Regions from separate parts of the Homo sapiens genome. Here region 2 is linked to region 1. Evidence: fine-mapped expression QTL. Tissue or cell type: cerebellum. Region 1 holds a variant in brackets; the other region holds the start of a gene. All regions are shown on one strand. Distances are between the middles of the regions.

Region 1 (8,599 bases):
TCAGACCACAATAGACCTAAACTAAAAATCAATAACAAAGATAGCTAGAAAATTCCAAAATACTTGAAGATTAAAGAACCCTTCTAAATAGTGTGGGTCTAAGAAGAAATCTAAAAGGAAATTTTAAAATATTGTTAAATAAATGAAAACGTAGATACGACTTATCAAATGTTATACGGTGCAATTAAAGCAGGGCTTAGGAAACTTATAGTATTGAATTCATATATTAGAAAAGAAGAAAGATCTAAAATCAACCACCTAAGCTTCCATCTTAGGAAGCTAGAGAAAGAAGAGCAAATTAAATCCACAGTCAGCAAAAGAAAATAAAAACTAGAGCAGAAGCCAATGAAATAGAAAATAGAAAACAGGGAAAGTCAACAAACCCAAAAGGAAGTTCTTTGAAAACATCAATAAAATTGATAAGCCTCAAGTCAAATTAAGAAAAAGAGAGAGCACAAGTTACTAATAAATGAAAGAGGACATCACTACAGATCCCATGGATGTTAAAGGATGATAAACAAACACCAGCATGGAAAACTACAGACTAATACCTCTCATGAACATAGATGCAAAAATCCTCAACAAAATATTAGCAAGTTGAATCCAACATGTATAGTAGGAATTAGCTTCTGTTTGCAGCCAGTATAAACAATTGCAAACACTGCTTTCATTTGATCCTCTTCTGACCTTTTTTGGGAGGGGTACTTAGGCTGTTCTGCTGTTTGCTTCCCATTCTTACAGGGAGGTAAAAAAGGGTGGCTACTCTAAATAGATTTTAAAGCACTTTCATTGGTGTAATTACTATTAGAGAGATCATTTTCTGTTTTCTCCAATTGTACATAGAGCCACAATTTTTGTCTAAATAGAAAATACATAGGCTGGGCGCAGTGGCTCACACCTGTAATCCCAACACTTTGGGAGGCCGAGGTGGGCGGATCACAAGGTCAGGAGATTGAGACCATCCTGGCCAACATGGTGAAACTCAGTCTCTACTAAAAATACAAAAATTAGCCGGGTGTGGTGGCGTGTGCCTGTGGTCCTAGCTACTCAGGAGCCTGAGGCAGGAGAATCACTTGAACTCGGGAGGCAGAGGTTGCAGTGAGCCAAGATCACGCCACTGCACTCCAGCCTGGTGACAGAGCAAGACTCCGTCTCAAAAAAAAAAAAAGATACATAGTTTGGACTCTAGACTCTTTGTTTTTAATCTTGTGGTAATTTTCTTTATTTTTCTTTACTTATTTATTTGGCGGTGGTTGTTGTTGAGATGGAGTCTCGCTCTGTTGCCCAGGCTAAAGTGCAGTGGCACGATCTTGGCTCACTGCAACCTCTACCTCCCAGGTTCAAGCAATTCTCATGCCCCAGCCTCCCGAGCAGCTGGGATTACAGGCACTTACCACCACACCCGGCTAATTTTTGGACAGGCTGGTCTTGAACTCCTGACCTCAAGTAATCTGCCCACCTCGGCCTCCCAAAGTGCTGGGATTACAAATGTGAGCCACTGTGCCCGGCCAGTTTTCTTTTTTTTTTATATAATGCACTTTGTCCAAGGATTTCAAATATTGTAGTCATTTCCCATGTGACATAGTAAGATCCTTGATCTTGGATATCGTATCTTAGCGTATTTGTCTGTTATCCCAGTTAGTTTGGTAATCTGTGATACCTAGCAGAGTGCCCAACCCATAGAAATGTACAGTCAGCCATACTCAGTGGGAGTGAGCAAAGGAGAGGGCCAAGGAGGGTGTCCTAATACCATAAGAAAACAGAGAAGCCTGAAGTTTTGCTGCTCCAGTAAAAAATCAATTTAATTGCCTAAGGGGAGATTTTTAAAAATCTGTTTGATTCACTTCTGTAACTGATTCACTTCTGATTTACTATGTCTGGTACACAGTAAATTAATATTTGCTGAAAGAACGAATGGAAGGTTTATTGTCGCTTAAGAATTTTCAGGTGCCAACAATCATTTGAGTGTTTAACATATACCAAAATGTTTCCTCTGTCCCCCTCTGAGCCAAGTTTAGTTTATTTCCTTGAATAACTTTCACCCACCTGCTTATTTCTGGTAGGCCAGTTCTTATTTCTAATGTTAGGCAGTATGGAGTTATGTATACTCAGCTGCAGTAAGCACATTTTAATACACATAATGCCATTTAATCCCCACCACCTGCTTGTCAGGTGGGTGCTGAAATCCCAAGATCACAGCTGAGGAAATGGAGGCTCAGAGAGGCTAACCAACTTGCCCAAAGTCACACAGCTCCTGGCCTCCAGCAGTTGGGTTCGGAGCTCTCTCACCTCATTCTGCTTCCCGCTTGTATTCTGAGCTTTGGCTATGCCATTGGAAAGGAGTTTAATTAGGAAGTATCTCGATTGAGAGCTGGGGGTGTTTCACTTCTCCCCTGCTGCGGGGCTTTCTGTTTATGACGCTCTGGTCTCTGTTCTGATGCTTTAGAAAGAGGACACGGTCAGGAGACCTGAGGCCTCTCTCTTCCTGACCTTGCTGTTAACCAGCCCAATGACCTCAGCAAGCCACTGTGCCACTTTGAGCCTCAGGAGCCTCTTCAGAACCCTGAAAACACCTTTTTTATTTTATTTTAATTTGTTTTAGACGGAGTCTCACTCTCTTACCCAGGCCGGAGTGCAGTGCATCATGGCTCCCTGCAACCTCTACCTCCCGGGTTCAAGCGATTCTCCTGCCTCAGCCTCCCAAGTAGCTGGAATCACAGGCATGTGCCACCACGTCCAGCTGATTTTTGTATTTTTAGTAGAGACAGAGTTTCACCATGTTGGCCAGGCTGGTCTTGAACTCCTGACCTCAAGTGATCCTATCGCCTTGGCCTCCCAAAGTGCTGGGATTACAGGCATGAGCCACTGTGCCCAGCTTGAAAACATTTTTCTAAATCATCCCTCCAGACTTAGCAATCCAGCAATTCTAACAGCCCTTTTGATTTTGCACTTTAGAGGTAGGCAGTGTCTATGGAGTGGTCTTGGATCAGATCCACTACTTCTCCAACACAACCTTGTGTCTGCCCCGTGCCTGAGGTCCTGGTGCTGGGTACAGAAGTGGATGGCCCAGCCCCAACCAGGGAGAAGTCTGGGTTGAGTAGGGGCAGACAGTCTCAGTAGACATGACAAAGGCTCCAGGAGTTGTGGGTCCCACAGTAGCAAGTGGAGGAGACAGTTATCAAACCCAAGATCCCAGCTGTCAGATCAGAACACCCAGAAAACGTTCAGGCCTGTCTTCTTTCTTTCCAAATGGTGCTGTTTGGACGCGTCAGACAGTGCTTTGACCATGTTACATGTAAAGAGTGCCTCTGGGGTCCTGTGTTCTATCCTTGGGAATGGATGATGTTTTTCAAAACAAATGTAATTTTTCCATCAAAATGTTTTTGTTTTTTGAAAAAGAAAGGATATTCTTTGTTTCCCTGAAACAGTAAAAGGACTTGAGTGTGTTTTATGCATAAAGGCCACCGTTATTTTGTAATGACAGCTTGGGAAGAGGCTTTTGTGGCCAGGCCTTTTATTTAAGATTGGGCTCTAGGGGTTTGCTGTATACATACAGCACAAAAATGAAGAGTGAAATCCCAGTTCAAGTGCAGCCGAGAACAGGAGAGTGAATCTCCACACACGTACTTTATAGGTCCGTGGGTTCCTTCAAGAAAAAGCCTTTAGAGCCAAGAGCTCCTGAGTGAAGGAGGCATCTTGGCTGTTTTGATCCTGTTAAGCATTTGGGCCCCTTTTCAGCAGGACTCATGTAAACTGGGCGAGTACCCACCATAGCTGTCTAGGGAACCCCACTGGATCAAGGCCTTCAGTATAGAAAAAGGGTCAGAAGTATGGATGCCAAAGCCGATGACCAGGGTTCTAATCCAAGCGTTGCTGCTTGCAAGCTCTGTAACATTGGACAAGCTACTGTGTCTCTCTGTACCTTATTTCCTCACCTTTGCAATGGGCCTTATGAGGATTAGGTGAGCTTCAGAGCTAAAGAGCCTGGCTCTCGGCACATGCCTACTGTGGTGATGTTGGTTACAGCTACTGTCAATATTGCCAGTGGCATCTAAAACCTTCCTGTGCCGTCCTCAAGCTCTCCCAGGCTGGAGATTTCAGAAGTTAGAAAGCTCCTGGAGTCCCATCCTCTCTGGGAGGCATTTGAATGTGAAGCCCTGGTAGAGAGTGGAAGGCTGG[G/C]TGGCCTTGGAGTGACATCCTTCCAGCTGCTGCAGGCCCTTGGCCTTGTACAAGACAAGAAGCTACCCCCTGGTCCCTTTCATGCCCTGGTCCTGTGCCCGGGCTGGAAGAAAGCTCATTCATATCTCACTTTTACAAGACAGGCAGCCATTTGTAACATCCTGACATTCCCCCAAGCAGTTGGCTCTTGTAAGTATAATAATAATGATCTAAATGACAAATAGCAGTAAAATTGAATGACAGTGGCCTTGTTGGGGGTCTGTCTTTGAAGCCACAGCTCAACCTCCCATGTGCAGCAGGGAAATCCGCCAGCTCTAGCCCTTCTTGCCAACTCTGCCTCTCCTTTTGTGAGTTTCTCCATTATGGGAAACCAGATTGGCGTCACAGCCCCTTGCCTGGGGCTTCAGGATATCAGGCAGCCCTGGGCTTGGCTGTAAGCCCACATTGGCCCACAAGTGCCAGAGACACCTGCTCCTATCCCCATAGGGGACAGACAAGAGAGTCTCCTCATCCATTCCATGGTCTCTGAGCCTGGTCCTCAGCCCAAAGCTGGCTCCCTAGACCAATGAGAGCCAGAGAACCAGAATGGGCCATAGGAGCCGGTGGAATTCAGAGGGTCTCAGCCAGCACTGTCCAACAAAAGTAAAATACAAGCCGAAACTGCGTTTAGCAGCCAAGTTTTTAACAAGTTGGAAAGGAAACAGATGAAGTTAATTTATTAATAAAAACATTTAATGAAGGCCAGGCATGGTGGCTCACGCCTGTAATCCCAGCGCTTTGGGAGGCCGAGGCAGGCAGATCACCTGAGATCAGGAGTTCAAGACCATCCTGGCCAACATGGTGAAACCCCATCTCTACAAAAATATAAAAATTAGCCAGGCATAATGATGGGTGCCTATAATCCCAGCTACTCGGGAGACTGAGGCGGGAGAATCGCTTGAACCTGGGAGGCAGAGGTTGCAGTGAGCCGAGATCGTGTCATCGTGTCACTGCATTCCGGCCTGGTCGACAGAGCAAGACTTTGTCTATATATATATATATATATATATATATATATATATATCCATATATATACATATTTGTCCATATATATATATTTGTCTTTATATATATATGTCTTTATATTTGTCTTTATATATATATGTCTTTATATATATATGTCTTTATATATATATATATATGAGCTATTTTGCATTTTTTATACTAAGTCTTCAAAATATGATGTGGATTTCACACCTACAGCACATCTCAGTTTGGACTAGCCACATTTCATCTGCTCAGAAACCACAAGTGGCCAGTGGCCACTGTATTGGATAGTGGCTCTAGACAGCTGAATAGGGACAGTATAGCCAACATCCTAAGTCGTGTGTATCTGAATGTTTATCTTCCAGTGGGGCTCTCTAACACTATTTTCCCTTTTACAGTGAGGCTTTGGTTAACCAGAGGTATTTATTAACCACAACTGCTCATTGAGAGAAAGATATGCTTTATTCCAAAAATGAATTTGCAGCGGTGAGGTTGTGCCCTATACCTGTAACTGAGATCTTCAGGACCTCCCGTGTTATCTGGTACACAACAAGCCAAAGGTGACACGTTTCTCTGGGAAAAAATGCTCTGGCTAGATTCTAAACCCCATCCTATTGTTACAATTGAAGGCACTGCAGTGTTCAGAGTGACTTTGTAATCTTGGCCCAGTGGCTGAGCAGGCGGGCTCTATGCGGCTGATGAGGATGAGTGCTGTCACGAGAAAAACGAGCCTTGGCGCTTGGCATTCTGCTTTTGGTAAGCCTTGGAGGAAGGAGAGCGTGTTATCAGAAGGAGTCATGGGAATTTAATGCCTTGGAAATAGAAAATGAAGAGCCAGCTGGGAGCCAACTTGTTGTAGAACTTAAAGCAAAACCAATCAGGTGGCCATGGCCTTTAGGATTCATGAATCCTTCTGACCAGAAACAGGGCTCCCACACCCTTGCCTGTTGATGGCTTTCCAATTCGGACATCAGTTTCCATCACCCAAGCAGAGAGATGTGGTTGGCAAGACTGCTCAGATATTTGTAGAATATAGGATAGGAAACAAAGTATAACCTCCTTTGTTCAGCCCTCACTGATCCTTTACCTGATACACACAGCAACACTGTTGCTTCAGCCCTGCCACTGTTAAAAACAAACTCACTTTGGGAGGCCAAGGCAGGTGGATCACCTGAGGTCAGGAGTTCGAGACCAGTCTGGGCAACATGGCAAAACCCTGTCTCTACTAAAAATACAAAAATTAGCTGGGCATGGTGGTGGGAGTCTATAATTCCAGCTACTCAGGAGGCTGGGGCAGAAGAATTGCTTGAACCCGGGAGGCAGAGGTTGCAGTGAGCAGAGATTGCACCATTGCACTCCAGCCTGGGTAACAAAAGCGAAACTCCTTCTCAAAAAAAAAAAAAAAAAAATTTAATGAAACACCAAGTAACATAACATACACAGATGGTGGGGACTGGCTTTAACCAAGTTAAACATAGTTTAACATAGTTACAAGAGCAAATTTTATTCAAGTGCTTTTGAAATATAGTTACTTAAAACAACTGAAATGATGCTTTCCAATAAATCATCTTAATCCTCTGGGCCCTTTGATTAATATTTCATTAATCCCAGTATCAATGTATTTGAAAATACATTGAAAAGATAAAATTATATCTTTAAAATAAATGTGTCAGTATTCAGTTCCACATATTAATTGATTGGCTTTGAGCAAGTCTTTAAACTTAGAGAACCTATTTTCTCCCTATAAAATGAGAATATACAGTAAGACCTCACTTAACATTATCGATAGGTTCTTGGAAACTGTGACTTCAAGTGAAATGATGTATAACAAAACTAGGTTTTTCTCCCTCATCAGCATTATAAGGAAATGATGTTATTTGAGGACCTGCTGTATGTTGTTTTGCTTAAAATCACAGTTTCCAAGAACTTACTGCTGGTACGGAGTGAAGACGGACTGTAATAACAACTCTGCATCATCAGATTACACAAGATGTGTGTAGTGGGTACAACCTGCATTTGGTGCCCAGAAGGTGGATTTTCACTCACCCAAAGAGAATTTCTGTTGCCCTTCTACTTGGTCAGGACAGGATTTGTAGAAAAGCTGAGATTGTGTGATTCACTTACATGAAGGAGGAAGTTTTTAGAATGGACAACTCTTGCTGCCACAGCAATCCCTGAAATCTCAGTGGCTTAACACAACCAATATTTCCTTACTGCTCACACACAGTCTGATGCAAATCAGGCAACCCTCCTCCATCTTGCAACTGAGCCATCTGGAACAGGTGGCCCCTAGAATCACAGTGACAGGAGGCAAATGGGCTTTTAATTGCCTCAACCCAAAAGGGCAACATCACTTCCTCTCCCTGTCCATTGGCCAGAACTAGTCATGTGGCTCCAAAGCAGAGGAGATTATGAAATGTAGGGGAGCACATGGGCTGTTTGGGGAATACTATCTGATGCTGAAGGTTTGCTCCTATCATTCTAATTTATTCTCTGATATGGCAATATGATAGCCTATTAAGCGTCTTCCCACTGACTTGTTTTGTTTTGTTTTGAGATGAAGTCTTACTCTGTTGCCCAGTCTAGAGTACAGTGGCACAATCTCAGCTCGCTGTAAACTCTGCCTCCCATTTTCCTGCCTCAGCCTCCTGAGTAGCTGGGATTACAGGTGTGTGCCACCGGACCCAGCTAATTTTTGTATTTTTAGTAGAGACAGAGTTTCACCATGTTGGCCACTCCGGTCCCAAACTCCTGACCTCAAGTGATCCGCCCGCCTGGGCCGCCCAAAGTGCTGGGATTACAAGCGTGAGCCACCATGCCCAGCCATTTTTTTTTTTTTTTTTGGGGGGGAGAGATTAGGGTCTTGCTATGTTGCCCAAGCTGGTCTCCAATTCCTGGACTCAAGTGATCCTCTTGCCTCGGCCTCCCGAGCTACTGGGATTACAGGCATGAGCCACTGTGCCTTTCCCCTATTCATTTTTAAGTTTGCTTTCTGGGGTAGGTTTATCTTTATCATTAACCTAGGTTTTACACCACTGGAATTGAAGTGAAATTATCCCCCCACTGCAATTAGTCCATTTTCACACTGCTATAAAGAACTACCTGATACTGGGTAATTTCCGAAGTAAAGAAGCTTAACAAGAAGCATGACTAGGAGGTCTCAGGAAACTTACAATCATGGCGGAAGGCAGAGGGGAAGTAAGCATGTCTTACCATGGCGGAGCAGGGGAGAGAGAGAGAGACAACAAGGCGGGAAGCGCCAAACACTTTTAAACCATCAGATCTTGTGAGAATTCACTCACTATCATGGAGAACAGCAAGGGGAAATCCGCCCCCATGAGCCAATCACCTCCCTCCAGGACCTTCCCCCAACAGGTGGGGATTGCAATTTGAG
Region 2 (6,799 bases), 69 kb after region 1:
AGGAGAAAAAGAGGGAAACACAGGACTGAGTTCATGAGCAAGCAGGAGCAGGTGAGTGAACAATCTCATCTGGAGGCTTAGCACACCCAAAAGCACAGCCCCACCTTCTAGGTCCCCACCAACCAGCTCGGACAGGAAGTGCCATTTGGTGGCCCAGCCTCCTGCGTGAAGCAGAATGGACAATCAGCCTCTTGCTTTCTGAAGCACAGTATTCCTTGGGCCTCCTTGCCAGCGACTGTCACCTCCGCCTTCCCTGTTTGCTCAGTCATCCAGGCTACATGGCTCTGACACAGCTCCCTGGGTCCCCTGCTGAGACCAACTTTTGCATGCTTAAGCCCTGACAGCTGGCCTAAAGATTCCAGCTGTTGTGCCCACTCACAGCATGGGTGATGCTGATGTGGATGGAGCCTCAATGTGCCATTCTCCTTTGAGCACTAGAATTTGGCCATATGTAGGGCAAATTACCTTTTTAATCCTCCATAGCCTTATCTGGAAATAGGGGCTAGCAATTGTCCTAGCTCAGAGGGCTGTTGTGAAAATTAAATGTCTTAACACATGGTAAGCACTTAGCAGAGTGCGTGGCATGTAATTGATATTAGCTGTAGTGGGGATTAATATTATTATTATTAGCCAATAAATATTATTATTTATAGGGGCAACTCCACAGTGAGCTCAATTCTTCTTGCTCTGACCTTGACCAGGTTTTTCTGCCTACACCCCCTCCCAACTTCATGGGGCCCTCTTCCCTCTCCCCCAGCCTCCTGACATACACACGTATGCACACTCTGCACATTTTCAGATACTGCTCATCTCAAACTTGACCTGGATCTGCTGAGAAGCTCTGGTCTCCTCCATCCCCAACACGATTGAAGGTGCCTTGATCGGTCTCGTATTGATCAGTCTGGTATTGATCGTCCCACATCAGTGTTGATGACCACTTAGATCTGGAGTTTGGAATTCCATCTCTGCTCTACACTGGAAGCAACATCTGTTTGCTCAAATAAACCAGTCCGTGTGTACTAGAAGATACATACAGCTCATGCTATGTGGCTGCCAGAGGTCAGTAAGGAATCTCTACTCCTCGTCATCACGTGGGAGTTCAGAGTGACAGAGTGCCATCTTGACAACTGTCTCCACAATCCCAAAGGCAGAGAGACGAGCATGGCAAAGCACTCAGTGATTCCGAAAGCTTCCACCTGGAAGTGACACATGTCACCACCTCCACCCCCAAGGGACCAGAAGGAGGCTGCCTGGCTGGAAGACATTTCCTCCTCCTAGACATAACTGGGCCTCTTCCTTGTCATCCACACAGGCACATTCTGCAAATAATGTGCACATGGATGTGTGTTTCTCATTAAGATCTAATGAGTGAAGCCATCAGATTTGTTCAGACTGGCCCAGGATTCAGAGAGAGAGCTGAGGTTTTATGAAACTCCCCTACCAATGGGGAATCCATGAATTATTAAAAGGATAGAAAAAGAGACCCAGGGTGGAAGGGCTGCTCCATTATTCATCAGGCCTGGAGTCCCCAAATCCCCAAGCACAGCTGTTGGCTTTTACACCTACAGCATTTTCCCATTATGTCTACAGTCAGCCTTTCAAACACGCCGTATTGGCAGCCTCCGAGCAGTGCTCCCGCCCACGTCACCCACTGCCTGTCTCATTATCTGAACCAGTCCGCGGCCCAACCGTGGGACACAGATGTTGGTGTTGCTCACCCACCTTCACGTCCCAGGCTCCCTGATCACAGACCTGAGGGCCTGAGGGCCAAGCTCCTTACAAGAACTGGGAGCCTCTCCCACTCTGGCCCCAGTTGTCTCTTCAGTTTTGTCTCCCTCCATTTCCCATGCCCACCCTACCTCAGACCATTTGCCTTTCCCTGAATGTAATTTCATATTCTCAGGCCTTCGTCTAGGATGACCCCTTTGCCTGAAACTCCCTTCCCAGCCCTCTGTCTACCTGGTGAATTTCTATTTATCATTTACGGCCAGATCAGAGGAAGGGAAACTAACTTTTGCTGAGAGCCCCCAATGTGTCAGACCCTTGTGCAAACATGATCTCGCTTTCGCAAACCAGTGAGGTTGGCGTTATCACCAGCATCAGAGACATAATTTTATGGAGTCCGGTGCAACAATTAAGATGTAGCCCCTTGTTGAAAACTGATTAAGAATTTCGAGATGGCAAAATCAGATCATCAAACCAGGCACAGAGCTTTCCTAAGAGCAAGGCTTTGAGAACCATGAAGCCAGCTTTGGTTATCGAGAAGTGAACGAAAGCTCAGAGAGGTTAAGTAACTTGTCCAAGGTCACACAGCTAGTTGGGGCAGAGCCACGTTGAAGACCTCATTCCATCAGATCCAAATTGCTGTTTTTCAACCACCCATGTTGTGGGGACTTCCCCACTTGCCTTGGGCAGAATGACTGGGGAGGAGGCTTTGAGCACCCCTGGACACTATCTTCCTTTTTTTTTTTTTTTTTTTTTTTTTGAGATGGAGTCTTGCTCTGTCACCCAGGCTGGAGTGCAGTGGCGCAATCTCGGCTCACTGCAAGCTCTGCCTCCCAGGTTCATGCCATTCTCCTGCCTCAGCCTCCCGAGTAGCTGGGACTACAGGCGCCTGCCACCATGCCTGACTAATTTTTTTGTGTGTTTTTTAGTAGAGATGGGGTTTCACCATGTTAGCCAGGGTGGTCTTGATCTCCCGACCTCATGATCTGCCTGCCTTGGCCTCCCTAAGTGCTGGGATCACAGGCATGAGCCACCGCGCCCGGCCACTAGCTTCCCTTTTGAAGGGTGTTTTCTGCAACCAATTGATCTGTTATTTCTCCATAAGCATTGCAAGATGATCCAGAGAATAGGGTCACACAGATCAAAAAGGGGGCCTATCTAGGGGGCAAGTGGACATTCTGGGATTGTTCAATTAACCCACAAGGGAGGACATTCCCTCTTCCACCCACCCCTTTCCTCACACCCAACACCAGGCAGTCTGCTCACCCCCACTCCATACACTTACTCTTCAATGGCTGGAGGACATGGCGACGGCCCGCAGAGGTGACCCACAGGGCATGGATCCCAGGCCAGCCTCTCTGGCCTTTGCTGGGAAAATGACCTGCAGACTTTGCAAAAGGCACATCTCCTGGGTGCTTTGCCCGTTTTCATCTTTTCATTTCATTGATCCAGCCACCTCTGAGGTTTTCTTTGGTGGTTTTCTCCTTGACAGCTTTAGTCTTGGGGAGATGTGTCCAACTTCCAGTCATTCATTCAGCAAATACAATGTGCCTACTATGCGTCAGACTTTCTCCTTTTAAGGGGCTCCCAGCATAGTTAGGGAGATTGACAGTAAATTCATCATTGCCATACTGGTGAGAGCTGTGCAAGAGGCTCCTGGGCCCAGAGACGAAGAAGAAGAAATCCATTCTTGGATTTCCATCAGGGTATTCTGGGGGATAGAGAAGAACACTCTTGGGGTAGGTGGGAAAAGGGAGAAAAAGCGGAAAACTGCATAGGCCTAAAATGCTGTGAATAGACACGTGGTGTATCCTTTCCAAAAACCTTCAGTTGTCCCAACTCCACCTGGCCCCATTCACATGTGACAAAGTCCTCCCATGTCAGGAGACCTCAGCAACATAGATGCTTCTATAAAAGTTTCTGCCCTACAGTTTTAAACTAATATGTTCACTGCTGATGTCTCATTATTTAGCAACCAACTTTGCCCCCAAATATTTCCACATGCCACATCTTTGACCCCCTCTTGGTCTGCAGGGATTTTACAGGCCTTTGAGGGGAAGCTGCTGGTCTGTGAGCATCTGCACAAGTGTGCCGGACAAAGATATCGGTCAGGCTGCCATTTCAAAGCAATAAAAGATATGTGGCTATGCAGGCCAGGAAGAGTTAGCCCTTGGGTTCCCCTTCCAACCTGGCTGACCACACTGGCTCCAGCTGCCACTTTCAAATTAGTCATAGATTAACAAACATCTATTGAGCACCTATTGGGTGTCCAGGACCCAGAGACTAAAGGAGACATAGAACCTAAGAAAGGAAGAAATGTTTTATTGTTAGTTGCCACCATTTATTGGACATATATTACCATTTTACTGTTAAGAGGGACAAACACTTTGCTTAAGGCCACACAGTACAAAAGCAGAGTGGGGCTTTAAAGGCTCAGATTCTGCACTTAGACAGGCCTGAGCTGCAGTCCTGGCTCTGCCATTTTCCAGCTGTGTGTCCTCAGACTCCTCACTTAAGCGCCCTGTGCCTCAGTCTTCTCATCTGTAAAATGGGATTCGTGTGAGAATTAAATGACTTAATACATGTGAAGCTCATTGAACGCTTACACTAGTAAGTGCTCAATAAATACTAGCTGGCATTGTTGTTCTATCACCATCATCATCATCATCATCATCATCATCATCCTTATTTAAAAGCAGCAGCAACGGCAGAGGCTGCAGCCCCAGCTGCTGGAATTTGAAGGTGAGTCTGACTCCAGGCAGGGTCTCCCAGCCCTATGCGGACTCTGAAAGCCTCTCCTCTCCCACGCCGGCCCCCAACTCTTCACCTGCCACCCCCACAAGGGTGCTCACCCCAGAGGTGCTCACCTCCCGGGCTGGGAGACCGCATCTGACCGGTCCCAAACCCCGCCTGCAGCTGGCAGCGCCGGGGTGGGGAGGCCCCGCCCTCGGCCCCGCCCCCTGCCCGCCCCTCCCTCTCGGGGTCCGGGGCGCGAGCTGCGGCGGCGGCGGCCACGGTCATTGGCGCCGAGCGGTTCCGGCTGACTGGACGGGGCGGGCGTCCCGGGCAGCCTAGCGCGGTACCTCCCGCCCCGCGCGCCCAGCCGGCGAGGGACATTGGACCAGGGTCGGGGGTCGCGGCCGCTCCAGCGAGGTAAGAGCCGGGAAGACCGGGAGAGACCACCTCTTCCATCCTGGGGGGGTCCCTGGGGGACGGTCTCCCACCGGTGCTGGGCCGCGGCGCCGGGCTGCGCCCCCATGACAGCCCAGCCAGGGGCAGGGGCTGGAGAGCCCTAGCGATCGCGCACCCTGGAAGGGGCAGTGTGGTGGGGAGCGCGGGCGTGTGTATGCGCGTGTGCGTGTGTCTGTCTGTCCATCTGTCTGTCCCAAGGATGTATCGGGGGAGATGATGACGCCCCCTCTTTGCAGTCGCTTCTAGGCAATTTACCCATGCCAAAGCTGAGGGCAGACTTTTCCACGACGGACTTGAATGGGGCTGGCAGATTATTATCCGGATAATGCAGGAAGGGATAAGCCCACCACCACCTGTTGAGCTGGGCTGTCGGCCTATGCGGGTCCAACTCCCCGCTTATCACAGCCTGCAGGGTGGCCTCATTTCTCCAGCTCGTGGGACCCGGGGCTTCCTTCTCCCGCCTGTGAGAAGGGTTGATAGGAGGAGGTGTCCCTGCCAGGAGCCACTGAGCAGAGATGGACTCGCGGGGGTGATCAGGGTGGTGCTATGGGGACCCCACCGCAGGTGCTGGGCGTGAGGTGTCAACCACCCAGGCACACCCCAAATTTGGATTTCCCCAATCACTCCAAAACCTCTCATTGTGATTCCCCGATCTTTGCTCTCATCCTAATTTGGCAGTTGATGAAGATGCAGCTCGTTAAAAATGTTAAAGTGAAATCAAATTATCACTTCCTAGGACTGAAAATGATTTGAGAAATAATTCCGGGAGCCTGGCTGGGGAGGAAAGAAGCTCATATTCTGACTAGCTTCTCCAGGGCTGCCCCGGGGCTGCCTCCGGTACCTGCCAGGCACGCCGGTGGTTAAGGAAGCCCTTGTTCCCAGAAAGGAAGGGATTCACCCACTTTGCACTGGATTATCAGTGACTGGGTTAGAGCAGGACCCAGGACAGGATCCCCAAGTGGGAGCTGTCTCAGTTTGACAGATGTCACATACAAGCTGTCACCGAGGCTGGCTTCTGCTCCACATCCATCCTGGGGAACACAAGATGGGGCTTCCCCTCCCAGCCACCTCACACCCATTCCCCTCATTTCCACAAACCTGAAGTCTTGATCAATTAACAGCCAGGATTGCCTGGGTGTGGGTGTGGGACCTTGATTGGCTCTGATGTCCTGGATTCAGAGTATCTCAGGACCACAGGCATCTCAGTGGCAGGTTGGTGGCACCTCTTTGCAGACCCTGTAGCCAGCCCCTCATGCCGAAGTCTCCTGCCTGCCTGAGAAGCCCTAGATCTGCCTCACTTCTCTGCTAACGCAGCCCCTGGAGGTAGCTGGGGGACACCTCATCTCAGGGCCAGGTCCCCAGGGTGCCTAACAGGGTGAAATCTGTGCTTGTGCCTGAGACCTCCCCACCCCCAAACCTCCTCTCTCTTGTCATGTGGAAGGCAGTGGATGTGCTGAGGGGCTGGGTAGTCCAGTTCAACGGAAGATAGAGGTGGCCCTGCTGTGGCTGGGGCTGTTGGTGATGTGAGAACCCCAGCATCCTGGCTGGCTGCACCCCAGGCCCCACAAGCCAACAGCACACTTGAGGGAGCTCAGCCATTCTCAGGCTTGTCAGCTGGGGCTCTGTGACTTGGTGCAGGGGGAGATTGGCTGAATTGTTCACGCTTGTTTGGAAGAGACTGGCCTTAGGTTGTTGTGGAAAACGTCGGCTCCAAACCCTGCTAGGTTCCTGACTGTGTGACACTGGCCAACTTACAGAATGCTTGGAGGCTCAGCCTCCTCACCTGTAAGATGGGTCTGGCAGGGGGTTTTGAGAATCAAGTAAGGTCATGAATGAATGACAGTGTCCATTTTACTGGAGGTGGTTCTGGGCTGGTGTTGTG

Which allele goes with the higher level. Alleles are on the strand shown, and positions count from the first base shown. SD is a standard deviation of normalised expression in the study named.
For the expression in cerebellum of the gene that starts at base 4,745 in region 2, allele G in region 1 goes with a higher level than allele C (moderate effect, 0.46 SD a copy in GTEx).

What was found. PIP is the estimated chance that this variant, and not a neighbour inherited with it, causes the effect.
Region 2: CACNG5 starts here. The variant in region 1 is the best candidate, but not a certain one, in a credible set for the expression of CACNG5 in cerebellum (GTEx, PIP 0.86).

The regions. Positions count from the first base shown.
Region 1 is chr17:66,760,214-66,768,812 of GRCh38, forward strand. All of the region lies in intron 13 of PRKCA (protein kinase C alpha), which reads left to right. Among named protein-coding and RNA genes, the nearest start is that of MIR634, 23 kb to the right of the region's middle. The variant G/C (reference allele first, on the strand shown) is at 4,180.
Region 2 is chr17:66,830,373-66,837,171 of GRCh38, forward strand. It overlaps CACNG5 (calcium voltage-gated channel auxiliary subunit gamma 5), which reads left to right and starts at 4,745. Exons shown (of 6, transcript NM_145811.3): 1 at 4,745-4,878. RefSeq lists enhancers at 1-63, 1-422.